Linked DNA regions of Homo sapiens: all the other regions are linked to region 4. The links come from fine-mapping of genetic effects on gene expression. A gene starts in region 4. Each other region holds a variant in brackets. All regions are shown on one strand. Distances are between the middles of the regions. Region 1 overlaps CRYGN (crystallin gamma N). Region 2 overlaps WDR86 (WD repeat domain 86). Region 3 holds the start of CRYGN (crystallin gamma N). Region 4 holds the start of WDR86 (WD repeat domain 86).

Evidence for each region.
Region 1: its variant is fine-mapped to the expression of WDR86 in whole blood (TOPMed, PIP above 0.99).
Region 2: its variant is fine-mapped to the expression of WDR86 in whole blood (TOPMed, PIP above 0.99).
Region 3: its variant is fine-mapped to the expression of WDR86 in whole blood (TOPMed, PIP above 0.99). The same link has a PIP of 0.9 or more in blood mononuclear cells.

Annotation. Positions count from the first base shown.
Region 1 is chr7:151,427,644-151,431,799 of GRCh38, forward strand. It overlaps CRYGN (crystallin gamma N), which reads right to left. Exons shown (of 4, transcript NM_144727.3): 4 at 1,189-2,537. The coding sequence ends at 2,405. Among named protein-coding and RNA genes, the nearest start is that of MIR3907, 3.9 kb to the right of the region's middle. RefSeq lists enhancers at 868-1,387, 2,165-2,234, 2,555-2,754. The variant G/T (reference allele first, on the strand shown) is at 2,453.
Region 2 is chr7:151,379,679-151,383,834 of GRCh38, forward strand. WDR86 (WD repeat domain 86) reads right to left here. Exons shown (of 6, transcript NM_198285.3): 5 at 2,200-2,303; 6 at 1,446-2,068. The coding sequence ends at 1,904. Among named protein-coding and RNA genes, the nearest start is that of WDR86-AS1, 27 kb to the right of the region's middle. RefSeq lists silencers at 1,689-1,848, 1,869-2,108. The variant G/A (reference allele first, on the strand shown) is at 2,081.
Region 3 is chr7:151,439,205-151,443,360 of GRCh38, forward strand. CRYGN (crystallin gamma N) reads right to left here and starts at 937. Exons shown (of 4, transcript NM_144727.3): 1 at 693-937. The coding sequence starts at 713. RefSeq lists enhancers at 1-216, 217-717, 1,429-1,965. The variant T/C (reference allele first, on the strand shown) is at 2,414.
Region 4 is chr7:151,408,223-151,412,378 of GRCh38, forward strand. WDR86 (WD repeat domain 86) reads right to left here and starts at 1,816. Exons shown (of 6, transcript NM_198285.3): 1 at 1,205-1,816. The coding sequence starts at 1,367. WDR86-AS1 (WDR86 antisense RNA 1) reads left to right here and starts at 939. Exons shown (of 6, transcript NR_109857.1): 1 at 939-1,160; 2 at 3,006-3,090; 3 at 3,448-3,570; 4 at 3,745-3,848. RefSeq lists an enhancer at 2,382-3,014.

The sequences.
Region 1 (4,156 bases), 19 kb after region 4:
AGCGGGCTGTCCACAGGCAAGGAAGCCAGGAGCCTGTTCACACAAATGCTCGCTGTTCAGGGCAGGCTGCCCAAGTCACCCCTTCCTGGTGTCCCCAGACCTGGGCTACTAAGTCCTGGGGGTCCGGAAGGCAGGGTTAGTCCCAGGTAACCACAGGGACGCTCCAGGGATCCCTGCTGAAGGACAAGGACCTTCTCCTCCTCCTCCTCTTCCTCCTCCTGCATCTCAGCCTCCCCAGCAGCCACAGCCAAGAGCCCTGCCAAGCCGATGGGACCCACGCAATCAATAAGCAGGTGATAGCTTCTTCAGGTAGGGAATGTGGGGCATGGTCGCACAGGAGACCCACAGGGTTCCCTGGGATCCAGCGAGGGCCTTCATTCCCACATTGCCCCCAACAGTCCTGAGCACCTCAGCAACAAGGAGTTAATTTTTTTTGATTATGGCAAAATACACATACAATTTATCATCCTAACCATTTGAAGTGTGTGGTTGAGTGGCATTAAGTACACACACATAGTCGTGCGGCCGTCAGCACCATCTGTCTGTCTCCAGAAGTCTGTCATCTTCACAAACTGAAACTCTGGAGCTAAACCTTTAAAACTGTCTCATTTGACAAGTTTTTTGTTAGTTTGTCTTTTTCTTTCTTCTTTTTTTTTTTTTTTTTTTGACGTCCCTGGGCTCAAACTCATCCAACAGGCTTTGATTGAAGATCTGTTGTGGCTTCCTGGGGGGAACACAGGCAGGACAGCCCTGCTCTTAAGGCACCCAGTGGGGTGAAGAGGTGAGCCAAGAAGCCTCCAGCCAAGAAGGCGGTAGCCTGCCAGGCGCAGGCCACCTCGGGGCATGGGAGGGAGGCCCAGGAAGGGGAAGGGGCCAACAGAGACTTCTTGGACCAGCCCTTGGCTGGTGAGAGGAACTTCTTGGTGCGGGGGATGGGGTGGCTGGGGGGATTCAAAGGGAATGTTTTTCCTGTGGTCAGACTGGGCCTGATAAACAGTGCACGGGGGGCCAGCAGGGCAGGGGGACCTAGGGCTGAGGACATGAGGGGATGGCTCTGTGAAAGTCCCAGCTTTCCAAACCACAGAGGGAGGTAGAAATATGTGAAGCATGTGTGGCTCTTGAGGGCCTCTCACCCTCGGTCCATCGACCCCTGGACGGACTTCAGATAAATTACAAGCTGCCCACAAGCACTTTGGTGGGAATCTTGTTTTTCCTCTTTCAGACAAAAAGCAGATTTGCTGACAGATTAGGGAGCAGGGGGCTGGGGTGAGGGGGAGGTCACCCAGGAGCACAAAGCCCATTCGAGAAGCATTAAATCACCAGTTAATGAGATGCTGCTAAGCCTTGGTGCTGGGGAGGAGAGGAAGAGTTCAGGGGAAGCCTCTGGAACTCATGGGAAGGGCTGCTAGGCCTGGTTTTTCCCGTGACTCCCAAGGACCTGGACTGAACCGGTGGGGCCTGCAGTTCTCATTTCATTCCCCAGGCATTAATTGCCTATGAGGGGGCGGAATGATTACCACTGCTGTACGTCTGAAGACACTGAGACACACAGCAGTGGCTTCTCCAATGTCACATCCTAGTGAGGGATGGAGTGGGAATCAGGTTGGAGTTTGGAGCCAAGTTACCTTCTCTCCTGTGATGCCACTCCCCTGCCTGCTTCCCCACCCCGTCACCTACTGGGTCACCTACTACTAACCAGCCCTCATATGGCACCCGCTCATGGGTCACGCCTTTGGCTTTTACAAGGGTATACAGTTGGTACAGCAGACATGATTGCACTCATTTCACAGAACAGGGTCTGAGGCCTGGAGAGGCTTTGGGTTTGCGCCAAATTCATGACAAAAATATATCTAAATATGCAAATGTGTGGTGCTCTATAGAGGAGTGGTTAGGAACGAAAAGGATCAATCAGCCAGCCAGACCTGGGTTTTAGTCCTGACTGCTGTGTGACCCTGGGCAAGTTGCTTAACCTGTCTGTGGCTGGCTCTCCTCAACTGTACAGTGGTGATAAGCATATCATCTTGGCATTATTGTATATGATAAGTAAAATTACACAGATTCCAGCTACTACAGAGCCTGGCATTAAGTCAGTGCTCCATAAATATTCATCAACATCATCACCATCATCAGCTGTGGGCTGAGGTGCGAGATTGTGGAGGCCTGAGGCCAGCAGGGTGCCAAGGCCCAAGGAGGCTGTGGGGTGGAGGGTTGGACGGCTGTTTCAGAAGAGACAGGGCCCTTGCCATGGGTGGGGAGGGCCTCCCGCTGGCAGATATGACACACAGAAGGCTCCACCTCCCTAACAAACTGGCAGAGAAATGAAAACTGAGGGCATGATTTTAAGTAAACACTCTCCCGGCTCAGAAACGGTGCAGGTGCATTTACATGTCAATCGGTTCCAGGCTCAGAGGTTTGCAGTCAGGAAAGGTGGCTGGGTTGTTGCTGGTTTTGT[G/T]GTGGCCTCTTCCGGTCCTTGATCTGATTGAAGAGAGCTGCTCAGCTGGAAGTCCTCAGCTCCGAAGCTTCTAGGGCTCCATGCTCTGTGGTTTGCAGGTGAAAGGAGGTGGGGCCAGGGCATTAGGGGTACAGAGCAGGCCTTTTGGGGACCCATCTACCACATGGCAGCAGGGAGCCCCTTCCCCTTTCCTGGGCGGAGTGGACGGTTGCCTAGTGGTTTCATGTCTTCATTTGGCCTCGGCTGTCATGGGACAGCCTACGGGGGTCCCACAGCAGTCATGGGGCCCCTCCGTCTTTGCCACCCAGCTCTTGGTGGGGAATTGTCTTGGGTGAATTGGGTGACCCATCGTGACTCTTTTTCCATTGCTCTCTCAGTGAGGGATGGGGAGAGGTTGGAGGACACCCAGGAACGGGACAGCCATCCCCTGGCCCACCACACTCAGGCCACCACACTGTGCGACAGAATCAGCCCCTGAGATTTTGTTTTTCTCTCGGGAACCCTGTGTTCCCTCGCTGAGCTCCCTGCCGTACTCCATCACCCCCTAGGCCTGTCGGGGTGTCTCAGTTCAACTCAGATAGTAACCCAGGGCTCATGGGCTTTCCCTCGGAGTCCTGAGCTGGGCGACCAGCCTAGAGGGGCTGATCCCCAGTCCAAACCCCTCCATCTACTCAGAAAACTGGAGTAAGATGTATGGTGAGGAGGACCCGGGAACTGAGAGGCCAGTCGGGAGCCAGTTGGTTGGGGGGACTCTGGGATCGCAGTCGGGGATTAGAGGCTGGACCAGGAGTCAGATCCACAGCCAGAACTCTGTGGGCACACGGGTGATCCAACCCATGCACCTGGCCCCCCACTGATCCCTCATCCAGCCAGGCCTTGGTCCAGGCACAGGCCATGTGGACATCTTTGGGGTCTCCATGTCCAGGAGCCCCCATGCTCAGGAATCTCGGGTCCAGGGCCCCTGTGTTCTCCTCAGAAGCCCAGAGCACTCCATCTGTTGCCTCCTTCTGGGGTGGGCTATGGTTTCCTCACAGGCAGGCTCCATTCAGGACTCTGCTGGAGGGCTGCCGGCAGCAGGGAGTTACCTGGGCCACCCCCAGGGACCAGAGTTCCCCTCGTGGGACCTTTCCTCTCTCCCCAGTGAGTTGGAAGCATAGGCGTGGGTGGGGAGGGAGTGGGGGGATGCTTTTGGGGACGTGGACCTCTTATGCCCAGGAATCCCACTGCCTGGGCCGAGTATCTCCTTCCAGGACAGACTTCTCCCTCCCCTCTGCCCCTCAAGGGTGGGGTGTCCCCTCTAGATTCAAGCCCACCCCAACAGGAGGACCCAGTGTCCTGGAGAGGGCCCAGGAATGGAGGAATTCTACAGGCGAGCGCTTGGTGCTGCACCAGCTGAAGACGCGAGCCGCCGGTTCTGGGTCTGCCAGCCCTACTGCTCCAGGGGCTATGGCTGCAGCAGACACGCCCCATGCCCCTTTCTCCCCGAAAGCCCCTCCATTCCCACAGAGCCCACCTGTTCAAGCTAAGCCCCCACCCTGACACTCACCACCACTAACTGTTTTCTCTCTCGCAGGAGAGGGGTCTGCCCTGGGTCGAAACCATCCTTCCAGAGGGGTCTCCCTTAGAAACTCCGAGGCCAAGATTAGCCATGAGGATAAAACCCAGAGATCAGACACAGAGACCCTGGGTCAGGCCTTTGGCCAC
Region 2 (4,156 bases), 29 kb before region 4:
TATAAAAATGCAAAGTGAGTGCAGCGCCCGTGTTTTGGGTCCATGCCCCACTGGGTTTCTCTGGATGGCTTGATGCATGCTCCATTCTCTGCTGTGGGGAGATAAGGTGGGGACTGGAGCTGACGTGTCAGTGAGGGGCTGCTCAGGCCAGAGCGCAGCATCACCAAGCAGCAGTGTCTTCGGCAAGCAGGAGTCAGTGTGAACGTCTGTGCAGGCTCAGGGCCGGCCGGCAGCACTGCCCGCAGGCAGCACTCAAGGCGGTTCTCTGGCCTGCGCCACCGGAACCGTCCCTTCAGCACGATGGAAAGGTCCTCTCTGGTAGGTATGCCCCTTGTGGCAGCCACAGGCCCCAATGGCTCCGGGACGCAGCAAGACCTGGCCACCCCCGAGGTCTGTGTGTGCTTAAGTCTCACCCGGAGAACAGTGCATGGTGCCGTTTCTGCGGGTTCTCCTGCACCGATCTGCTTGCCTCCCAACAGGCCCATTTTCCTGGGGTGGGGGTCGGGGGCACTTTGGTTCCCAGGGTTTGGAGGTTTGGCCTAGAGGAGTTACAGCGCCTGCGTCCTTTCCTTCCTACTGCCCACAGTGCAATCCCTACCTGTTCATCCGCGCCCGAGGGCGGACCCGCCCATCACCTAGCAGGTGATCCCTGGCGGCCCCGGCCGTCTCTGATGAAGTATCTTCTGCATTAAGACTATGAAGCGCATGCTGCTCTACCTGAAAGGGCTGCTCCACTTGAAGGGGCTGCTCCACTTGAAGGGGCTGCTCCTGCAGCAGGTGCTTCTCTCTGCAGCGAGATGATGAGCTCTCCACGGCAGACACTGTCACCTGCAGCTTCTCTCCTGGCACCCGGGCCAACCGGGGCACATGGATGCAGAAAGTGGCACCATCAAGGGACTGAAGAGCACCCCGCTCAGGTGCTGTGAGGGGTGCTGAGGGGTCTCCTGCAGGGCCCCTCGGCAGACTGAGCCCCACTGGCCCCTCGAGCCCCTGGGCACAGGGCTCCCCTTGGGTGCCCGGTGGCTCTGGCATGTGTGTTGCGCCTTCCAGCACCAGGCGCTGCCCTGGCTCCTGTGCACGAGCCCGGGGTGGGGCTGCTGCCCGCCCCCACCCCTCCTTCCACTCCAGGCCCTGAACGGACTTCCTAGATTCATGCCAGAAAATGACATGCCAGAAAATGACCCTGCTCCCAAGCAGGGTCCCCGCTGTCACCTGCACAGGCTAAAGAGCTCCTCCCTTGCTCCCCGGCCTCTTCCCCATCCACTTCCTGCACCAGTGACACTGGGGGCAGCCCCGCAGCGCACCCACAAGTCACCCCCAAGGCTGCCCAGGCCGGTTGTGAGAGGCAGAGGGCAGGAGGCCCGCCGCCCTGGGTTCCTGGAATCCCAAGCTCCAAAAAGAAGCTGAGACTCAGTTTGCAAAACAAAAAGAGGACACAGGAGCACTTTTAACGTTCAGGCTGTATATTTCAGTTCCCCCCAAGGCCCTCGAGACGGACGATTTGCCAAAATAACCAGGTTCAGTGGCTTCTGTAAAAAGTCACTTCCTCTCAGCAGGAAAGGCCCAGTTTCGTGGGGCTGGGGGAGCTGGGGCAGTCCGCCTGCAGCCCCTGAGGTGGGAGGGTCCCCAGGACTAGGCCTTTCGCCAGGTCAGGGATGGGGAGGGAGGACAGGAGCCACCCTAAAAGGGAAAAGGGGGCGGTCCCCAGGGCGAGCACTCCCGCTCCCAGCGCCTCCTGGCCACCAAAGAAAAACCAGACGCCTGCGACGGGCTCTCCTCCCGCCCGGGCTTCCTCGCTCCTCGCCCCTCGCCGGCCATCGGGCGCCACCACCGCGGGTAGCAGGGCGGGGCGCTCTGGGAGCCGCTGGGTGTCTGGGCTGGCGTCTGCAGGGGCCCCGCGGGATCAGGCCGGCTGCAGGGGCGCGGCGGCGCAGCCCACCTTGTTGCTGAAGAGCCGCGAGAGGCTGCGCATGGGCGGAGGGGGCCGCGGGGCACCTCGGAGCCCGCGCACGTCCCAGAGGCGCAGGGCGCCGTCGTGCGAGGCGGTGTAGAGCACCTGGCCGTGCACCTGCGGGCGCAG[G/A]GGCGGGCGTCACCGGTGACGCGGTAGGCGGGGGGGACACCGCTGCCCGCGTGGATGGATCGGGGCGGGGCACCTTCCCTCCCACGGGCGGCGGCCCCGAGAAGGGCAGAGGGACCTACCTGGATGCAGTTGATGATGAATGTGTGGCCCCGGAACACCCTCCGCAGCTCTCCAGACTGCGCGTCGAAGGCCCGGGCGCAAGCGTCCCCGCTGCCCGTGAACACTGCGGACACACAGCGCGCGCTGGGCCTCCCTCCCTGCTCGGCCCCCCGCAAGCAGGGATGGGGCGGCGAGAGCGTGACCTGGGGCGTCTCCGAGACTCCGCCCCACGGGGGTATCCTGAGGCTCATATGGGAAGTGGACAGTGCCCCTCCAGAGAAACGGGTCCCCACGGTTATTCTGCTCCACCCTGCAGATGCCTGCGCGCCAGCTGGCCCTGCCCCTGCCCTGCTGAACACCGCCCGGGCCCAGTCCCCACTCCGCGGTTTGGTGAAGTTGGTTTCCGTGCCTGCTTGGGAAGCCCCTGCCTGGGGATAATCGTCAGGTCCTCGAGTCGCTTCCCCCCTACCTTCCGCTGCGTCGGCAACCTTATCCTCCCGTCCTCATTAACGGATCGGCACTCAAATCAAAGCCCAGCCCTCTGGGGTTCATGATCACGCACCCCCGGGACCCCTAGCGGGGGCGAGCCTCCGACCTCAGTCTGTCTCCTCCCCCAGGTGGCTGCCTCTCCCTGGGGTTTCTCCTAAGATTTCAGTCCAATCGTTTTCCAACTGCAACCTGCATTTGCATCCGTCACTTGGAGGTCTTAGCCACAGATCGCGGGGCCGCATCCCAGAATCTGATTTAGCAGGCGGGGCCTGAGAATCGGCATTTCTAACCAGTTTTAAGTGATGCTGCTGCTAGTCAGGAGGCCACACTGAGGATGTGGACTAGAAGAACTCACTTGGCCTAGGCTGGGCTCTCCGAAGCCGACCCTGATGCTAGGACTTGATGCAGACAGTTCACCTGGCAGGCGTCCCAGGAAACGCTCACAGGGAAATGGGAGATGGAAAGGGAGGGAGGAAGTCCTGTGGGGTCTGTCAATGAGCAGGTAACTACGGTGGGCAGCTATGGTGCAAGCCTGCCAGGGACCTTGGGGAAAAGGGGTAGGACCACCTGAGGGTAAGGGTGCTGGGCTACCTATCTATCTGAGGGTGCTCTGTGGGTACTTGTTCCCCAGCCTTTTTTTTTTTTTTTCTTACAGGGAGACAGGGTCTCACTCTGTTGCCGAGGCTGGAGTGCAGTGGTACCATCTTAGCTCACTGTTAACCTTGAACTCCTGGGCTCAAACGATCCTCCCGCTTCAGCCTCCTGAGCAGCTGGGACCACAGGCATGCACCACTACACCCAGCTAATTTTAAAAAAAACGGGGCGGCGGGGTGGGGGGGGGGAGCTGGGCACAGTGGCTCACGCCTGTAATCTCAGCACTTTGGGAAGCTGAAGCTGGCAGAGCAGATCATGAGATCAGGGGTTTGAGACCAGCCTGGCCAACATGGTGAAACCCTGTCTCTACTAAAAATACAAAAATTAGCTGGGTGTGGTGGCACACACCTGTAGTCCCAGTTACTTAGGAGGCTGAGGCAGGAGAATCACTTGAATCTGGGAAGTGGAGGTGGCAGTGAGCCTAGACTGCGCCATTTCACTCCAGCCTGGGCCACAGAGCAAGACTCCGTCTCAAAAAAAAAAAAAAAAAAATGTTTGTAGAGACAGGGTCTTGCTATGTTGCTCAGGCTGGTCTTGAACTACTGAGCTCAAGAGATCCTCCCGCCTTGGCTTCCCAAAGTGCTGGGATTACAGGCATGAGCCACGGTGCCCAGCCTGTTCCAGCCTTTTTGTTAAAACTACAGAGTGAATGGCCCCAGAGGGGAAGTTTCATTTCTGGGTCTCTTTTCAGCCCCTTTCTGCCTTCCCCCCACAAACTCAGACAAATGGACATGGCCTGGAAAACCCAGTGTGGCTGCTGAGCTCCCCGCGGGTGGGAAGAGGATCAAAAACAAAGTCTGATCATCCCATAGCCTTGCTGGCCAAGACCAAGAA
Region 3 (4,156 bases), 31 kb after region 4:
CACCTTGGCGTTCTGCACCCCAGAGTTACTGGGGCCCTTTGTTACTGAAGCATCACCTGGCCCATGCAGACTGATACAGCAACACAGTCACCCCCAGACACTCTGGAATGTGGCCTTGGAGACCAAAGGCTTCATGGGAGTGGCTAGGCTAGGGGCACTGGAGAGGGCGAGGGAGAGCCAGGTCTCCCGTCCTTCCTGCACCAGGCACGGCTGGTAGAGGGCCCCTGAAACCTTCAGGGAGGTCTGGGCACCAAAGGGATTCGGGGCTCCCTCAAATCTCAACATTTTTCAGAGAACCAGCCCTAAGTGTCCCTGAAGAGACCCTGGGAAGGAAAAGCCATAGAGGCCAGCCTTGGGCAAAGAAGCCGCAGCAGTGGGGCGGAGGGCTGTGGGACAAGCCAAGCCTCCCCCACCCCAAGGAAGCCCCAGGGAGTCTGAACACCCTCCCTGCTCCTGACTGCAGGGCGAGGGGTTGGAATCCCAGAAGGAAGGAGTGGAGATGGAGACCTTCCTATCCATCCACACCAGAGAGGCCCCAGGCCAGTAGCGAGGCCACCCCATTTTATTAAGAAATTAAACCAGCTTCCCTTGGATTTGTCACCATCAACAGTGTGCACCCTCCTGCATCCCCTAGCACAGGGGGCGAAGGCGGAGCCCCACTCGGTTTCCTTGGGGTTGAGGGACGCACTCACCTTCCCCGAGCGCTGCGCCATGGTGCGCCCCGCCCCTTCCGCGGGTCCCCGTTTACACCGGGCAGCGCCCTGCTGGCTCAGCGCCGCCCCGGACAAAAGATTTGCTGGGCCGGCCCCGGAGCGTTAGTGCTGTCGGGCGTGCTAAGCCCGAGGGGCCACCAGGCGGTTGGGACCCGCCGCGGCCACCCTGTGCCACCGCGAGTGCAGCCCGCCCTGCCCGGGGTCTCCCTGTGCTCTCCGCGTTTAGCTCCCGAGCCTCCTTCCTCCCTGAGCCCTCCCGCCCAGCCCGCGGCTGCCCCTGCCCTGCCCTGGAGTGGTGGGGGGAGGAGGGGAGGTGTCTCTCTAGCCCTCCAACCTTTCTTCCCCTGCGCTGCCCCTCAGCCCTCACGCCCATCTCCCTCCCTCCCAAGGCCTGTTCCGAGCTCCCCAGCCCACTCCCCTTTCTCACCTGGCTGCAGGTAGTCTCGCCTTGGTGCCAACTTGTTTGTCTCCACGAGGATGCAACCCAAGCTTCCCCGGACAGACAGACAGCCCTTGACCGCCCCTCCCCTGGCTGCTCTGGTCTGAGCTCCCAGGTCCCCACCTTAGACCTCCGGCTCCAACTCACCCAGCTCCTGATGCACCCCCCCACACCCCACAAAACGCCAGGCCAGGTCAGGCCTCCCTCCTCCCGCTCTCTTCCTGCCTGCCTCCCTCCCTGGCACTCTCCCTCCCTGGGTCCCTCTCTCCTTGAAGATCCTGCCTAGGGTGACCAGGTGACCCGCGCTGCCCTGAGCTGGGGGTACAGTGCTCTGCCCCTTGCCTCTCTGCTGCACCAACTAAGCCACCCTGGACGCCCAGGATCAGTTTACAGCACAAAGCAGCCCCACCGCGGAGGGAGAGTTCCCCAGGGCCCAGAACGAGCACTTGGCAGACAGCAGAGGCTCAGAGATTGTGGAGTGAGCAGAGCGAACATGGAGCCCACAGGATGTGCAGCCCCCACACGGCTGGGGAGATGAGCTGGGAACACAGGACTCATGACTCAGATGGCTGGGGTGGTGGGGGACAGGCTCTGAGATCAAAGGAGAGAGGGGCAGGTGCTCCACAGGGGCTTCTGCTGGAGGGGAGGGAGGAGCTTTGGGGAGGAGTTTGGGCTGCTCTTCCTTCAAACAGTATATTTTTATGACCATTTCACAGATGAGACACTGAGGCCCAGGAAGAGGAGGTTATGTGATTCTTGGGGCAGAGGGGTGACCTTGCCTCTGCTGTGGGAGGTTTTCAAAAGTAGACAGGGTACAAACCAGAACCTGCATGTCACCCTTGAACCCAGGGACGGTCCTCCCTAGGGACGCCCCTCCCTAGGGACGCCGCCCAGCTGCCTCCACTGGCGCCCTTACTTGCCAAGCCACACATTCCAATGTTTCTCTCTGGACCTGGGCCCTGGTGGGGACATAAAATTAAAAACAAAATCTCCAGCCAACCCAGAAAACTTCTCCACGAAGGTAGAAGGAAAAAAAAACAATTTTATTATTGAATAAACTTTAAACTGGAATGCGATCTGCATCACGATCTCTCCCCTAAGAGATCGCAAAGATGGAGAGAGATCTCACTCTTCTGTAGCCAAGCAGACACAACCCACTGCATTCATGTTTTCAGGATAAAATTGCTGATTTTCTTGTATCTCTATGACTGGAGGTGGGTTTTGCAATTTGGAGTCAGGTGACAGCTGAAGTCAGGCTTCT[T/C]AGGAAACGGGGAGGGTGGGGGCACTTACTCCTTGATGTCAAGACTCAAAGAGGCTCCCAGAGGAAACATGACTGAGTTGTTAGACTGGCAAGAGGCTTGTTTAGCCATTAAAAAGATTTACACACATTTGAAAATGACAGAGAAGGAAATTCTGCAAGAAAAGGGAGGAAAGGGAAGCCTCTTCCCTTATTTTCAACAGGGAAAAATAAGCCTTAAAAAAAGGTTTTATTTTTTAGAGCAGCTTTAGGTTCAAGTTGAATTCAGCAAAAGGTACAGCAATTTCCTGTATACCCCCTGCCCCTACACACACACACACACACACACACACACACACACACACACACACAGAGCCTCCTCCACAATCAGCGCCCCCATTAGAGTGGTACATTTGTCACAGCCGATGAACCTATGTTATACATCGGGATACAGGATGAGAAGTTGAGAGAATGCGGCGTAGACTTTGTTAAAATAACACATTTTTAAAGCCTCCCCACATAATGTGGTTGATTTTTCACAGCTTGCTACTCTTTGTCCAGTTGAGTATGTAAGTGTTTGACTCTTAACTTTTTCTTTGGGTCTTCATCTCCTTATAAGGGCTCCCATGCCACATAAAACTTGTATTAAATAAGTTTGTATGCTTTTCTCTTGTTAATCTGTCTTAGGTCAATTTATTTCTCAGGCCCAGCCAGGACCCTAAGAGGATGGAGGTAGAACTTTGCTGCCTCTACAGTGTAATGCCATGGTTCCACCATTAGAGCACCAGGTAGAGTATTCTCACCACCTTAAAAGTCCCCTGTGTGGGCTGGGCACGGCGGCTCACACCTGTAATCCCAGCACTTTGGGAGGCCGGGGCGGGTGGATCACCTAAGGTCAGGAGTTTGAGACCAGCCTGGCCAACAGGGCGAAACCCTGTCTCTACTAAAAATACAAAAACTAGCCAGGCGTGGTGGCAGGCGCCTGTAATCCTAGCTACTCAGGAGGCTGAGGCAGTGAGAATTGCTTGAACCTGGAAGGTGGAGGTTGTAGTGAGCCAAGATTGCGCCACTGCACTCCAGCCTGGACGACAGAGTTAAACTCCGTCTCAAAAAAAAAAAAAAAAAGATAAAAAAAAAAGTCCCCTGGGCTCCATCTGTTTATCCCTCTCTCCCCCTTAACTCCTGGCAACCACTGATCTTTTTACTATCTTCACGGTTTTGCCTTTTTCAGGATGTCATGTATTTGGAATCTTACAGTATGTAGCTACTACGGTTTGAACGTGTCCCCCAAAACACATGTGTTGGAAACTTAATCCCCAATGCAACAATGTTGAAAGATGCGGTCTCATGGGAAGGGTTTAGGTCATGAGGGCTTCACCCTCATTCATGGATTAACGCTGACCATAAAGGGCTACAAGGTCAACCGCTTGCTCTCTCTCACCCTCTCTTTGCCCTTCTCCCATGGGATGATACAGCAAGAAGGCCCTTGAAAGATGCCAGCACCGTGATGTTAGACTTCTCAGCCTCCAGAACTGTGAGCCAGTACATTTGTGTTCATTGTAAATTACCCAGTCTGTGGTATTCTGTTATAGCGGCACAAAACGGACTAAGACAGCAAGTAGCTTTCTCAGATTGGTTTCTTCCACTTAGTAATATGCATTTAAGATTCCCTCATATCTTTTCCTGGCCTAGTCTCTCATTTCTTTTTACTGCTGAATCATGTTCCCTTGTCTGGAAGTACCACAGTTTAGTTATCTATTCATCAAT
Region 4 (4,156 bases):
GTCTGGCTCTGTCACCCAGGCTGGAGTGCAGTGGCACGATCTTGGCTCACTGCAACCTCTGCCTCCTGGGTTCAAGTGATTCTCCTGCCTCAGCCTCCCGAGTAGTTGGAATTACAGGCGCCCGCCACCACGCCCAGCTAATTTTTTGTATTTTTATTAGACACAGGGTTTCATCATGTTGGCCAGGCTGGTCTCAAACTCCTGACCTCTGGTGATCCACCCACCTTGGCCTCCCAAAGTGTTGGGATTACAAGTGTGAGCCACCGAGCCTGGTCAACTGTTCTTATTTAAAACCAGCAGTATCAGGATTAGCCAATATTGGGGCTAATATCCTACCTAAGTTGGAAGGCCTGGGCGAGGCCACAGAGAGTTCACTGATGATGGTGGAAAAGCCCGCGGTGATAAAGAACTACCCACAGCAGAAAGCCTCGCGGCTCATCCAGGGGACTACGTGTGCTACCTGGGCAGTAGGAGGGCCAGAGCTGAAAGGGACCTCACAGTGCATGGGACAGGCCCAGGGGAAGGTGCACCCGAGGCACACTGACCTCCTGAGTGAGTACAGGGCACAAATAGAAACCAACAGGCATGCAGGCAGGGTTTACAGCAATGAGAGGGCTCAGACTGCCATCTACCCCTCACTGGCTGTGCGACCTGGGCGAATTACTTAACTCCCAGCCTGTTTCCACGTCTGTATGTGGGGTAACATAGTGTGACGACGGCACACTTCTCCGCACCGCTGGCCCTTAACAAGCGTCTACTGTTGCTGTGAGAGTCGTCAACAGGAAATGCCAGCAGAAGAGCACAATTGGCCACAAAGAGGCCACAAGGCACCTAGAGACAAGGGAAGGTTTGCTTAGAAGGAGTATAGGTGCAACTTTTTGTTTGTTAACATTGTTGTCAAGGGAGATTTCCTGCCGCTGGTTGACAAATGATCTTCGCCTTTGTAGCGGACGCCCCTCGACCCACCCACCCGATCCCGGCCGCACCCTGCTCTGCACCCGCACCCCACCCCCAGACCTCACCCTGCCCTGCCGTGCGCTCAACAGCCAGATGCTGGGCCCAGACAAGCGCTCTTCCGCTAGTGTGCCGGGATGAGCGGGGGCTGGACTTCTAGAAAGGGGTCTGCGGGCGCAGGAGCTGGGGTCCGCGGTCTGGGGCCGGTGAGCTGCGGCGAAGAGGTCAGGGAGGGAGTGGGAGGGTCTACCTTGCAGGAGCGCGCAGCACTGGCCGTCCGCGGTGCTCCAGAGCCGGGCCGTGCCGTCCTCGCTGCCCGTCAGCAGGCGCTGCCCGTCGGGGCTCAGGCTCAGCCAGTTGATGCCCCCGCGGTGGTCGGCGCAGACCCTCAGGGCCGACCCGCCGCCCCCCATCCCGCTGGCAGGGCGGGGAACAAGAAGGAGCTGCGCCCCGCTAGGGAGGGGCGCCCCGGGGTCCGCGCGGCGGCTCCGTACGACTGCGGCCCGCGGCCATCGCGGGGAACGGGGAGCCCGACTCCTGCGGAGGCACGCGGCGAGGGGAGGGTGAAGGACCCTAGCTCCCCGCTGCCTCCAGCCTCTGGGCCCGCGAACCCAGGGCGCTGCGGGGGGCGGCCCACTCGGGACCTCCGCCCTGGGTAGAGTCCTGGGCGCGCGGGCAGAGAGAACCCCCTTCCCAGCACCGCTCGGAGGATCCACACCCCACCGGGCGAACAAGGCAGCTGCGTCTCTGGTGCACAAGGAGCCCCCCGCCTCCTCTCGCGCCCACGGGGCTGGGGCGGGGAGAGGAACACGGGAAGCCGAGCGCCCCGCGCCCTCCCCGGCCGAGCGCGGAACAATACGGTCCAGCCTGGCTCCTCCTCAGAGACCACCCCTCACCCGATCCCCTCCCACTTCTCGGGCTGCGCCCCAGCCCCCACCCCGCGCGCCTGCAGCCTCCCCCCTTCGTCGCTGTGCGGGTCCGGGGGACGGCTCCACGTGCGACCCTCCTAGCTGCCCGGGCTGCGCCTCTGGGCTCTGGCCTCTGCCACCTCCGCCGCCGCCGCCTGGGTCCCCTGAGCCAAGGGCCGGGACGAGGGAGGGGGAGGCGGACAAAGGGTCGGGGTCGGGGAGAATCGCGCGCCGGGAACTCATTTGGGGCGCAGCTCCACCGACCCCTCGGCTACTCGCCTCCACCAGGCAAGCCAGGTCCTCCCATGCTCTGAGCCCTAAGGACTCTGCCCGAGGGGCTCTCGGGGACTTGGGGGCGGTCCCCCAATGGAGGGTGCGACAGGGAAAGCCCCGAGTCCGCCCTCCCTGGGAAATCACGCGCACACCCAGGATTCTACTTTGGTCTGGCCGGAGTGGGGATGAGGTGCGAGCCGCTGCGGGGTCGGTGGAGCCGGGATGTCAAGTTCACCTTCCAGCCGCCGCGGGCTCCCTCGGCCTGGGGCGCCTCTAATGGACCCCGGGGTCGGCCTGAGCCCTCCCGGAGCGCCCGGCGGCTGGTTTCCATTAGGGCAGTTCCGGCGCCGACTTCGCTGGGGACGGGGAAGGTGACCCCCCTACTCGGATCCCCCAGGTCCTAAAGGTAGCAGGATTTCCAGAACGCTCCAGGGCTCTCTCAGGAGCCTAGGGAGAAGGGCAAGGAAGGGGCGTCTTTGGCGAGCTAGCCCGCAATGGGACGACCAGTACTGCACGCTCTGCTCTATCCAGACTCCAAAAGAAAACCCCATCGTGGGGTGTCCCAGGCCGTTGGGTCGTTTATACCCAGAGTGGCCTAACCAGAGAAATCCGTTCTTTTCCCTCAAAACTTGTAAAGCAGCTGGCGCCTCAGCTTAAGGAGCGTGGCCCTTCCTTAGCAGGTGGTGGAGAGAGGGGCAGTGGAGGAGCGTTAGGACGAGATTTGGGGTCATCCAGCCGGAGAGAGGGAGGCCGAAAGGAGAGACGTTTTCAGGAGGTGGAGGCTTCAGCATTTGGATGCCTGCGAGGCGGGAGAGGCCGGGGAGCCTGTCTTGTGCTGAGAGGCTGGGTAGACTGTTTTGTCCCCTACAGGCTGATCACCAGTTCCTCTTAGGAACCGGTGAACCTCAGGGGGCCCATTGCACATCCAGGTGTGAAACTGCGGTGTGGCCTCCAGGTGAGGACAGACTCGGTATAGTGGGGATCTTGGGCAGGCCCTGCGGCTGCAGCCCTTGGGGAAGGTGAATGTGAGGACCATGGAGGCTGGGAGGGTTTATCCGGAGAAGTGCCAGAGGAAACCCAAACTTTCTGGGCAGAGGGGCCAAGGAGAACCAGGCATCGACTCTTTTGGAAACTAAGAGGGGAGGGGTTTGAAAGCAGTTTGGGAGCTGGGGACAGATCGTAGGTTGGGCGAGCTTGCCTGGTCGTGGGCCAGAGGAAAGAACCACCAGGAGAAAAGCTTAACTTTCAAGGAGGTCACCCAGGATTCCTGAGCAAGGTGGCACCCATGCACTCTGGTTCCTCTCCTCTGCAGCCAACACAAGCCATCAGCCCCATGCTCAGCTCCCAGCAGGCAGAGCGTTCAGAAGCGCCAGCGCCATCATCTTGGGAGCCTGCAGTCCACACACCGCTGACCTTACCTACTTCCTCTTTCCAGGTTGATAGATTTTTTGTTCTTGGCTTCTCCACCTCCCCCACCCCTCCTTCTCCGGTTTGGCACAAAGTGGCCCCCTGGTGGGGATGAGCCAGCCATCTCTGGGGGTTGAGTCTGGACTGTAGAGCTGTGGGTGCAGATGTCCTCAGCCAGCCTGTCTTCCCTTTTCTCTTGCAGGTCGTAGATTACAGACTCTCCTCTGGGAAATTGCCCCCAGATCTAACAGGAGTACAAGAAGCTGGGTAGATTGGAAAACAGCACCGAATTCCCCTGGAACTGAGGTCTCCCCTAATTCCCCTGAAACTGGGGTCTCCCCCAACCTCCACCTTAAGATAGCAAAGCTATAGAGACCCAGGAGTCAGGCTGGGTCCCCAGCAGAACCTGGGCTCCCTTCCCCTTTCACACCTTTAACTCTTCTGGAGCCTCCAAGAGGGCCTGGAGTCCCGTGGTGCCCAGGCCCTCCTGGACCTAATCACTTTATAAATGGAAGGCACCTTGGGAAGGGAACCTGGTAGGGTGTAGGAGGAAATGGTTAAGCTTTAAGAAGCAAGAAATGGGCAGTGTTTAACAAGTGAAGGGTTGGGGGGCG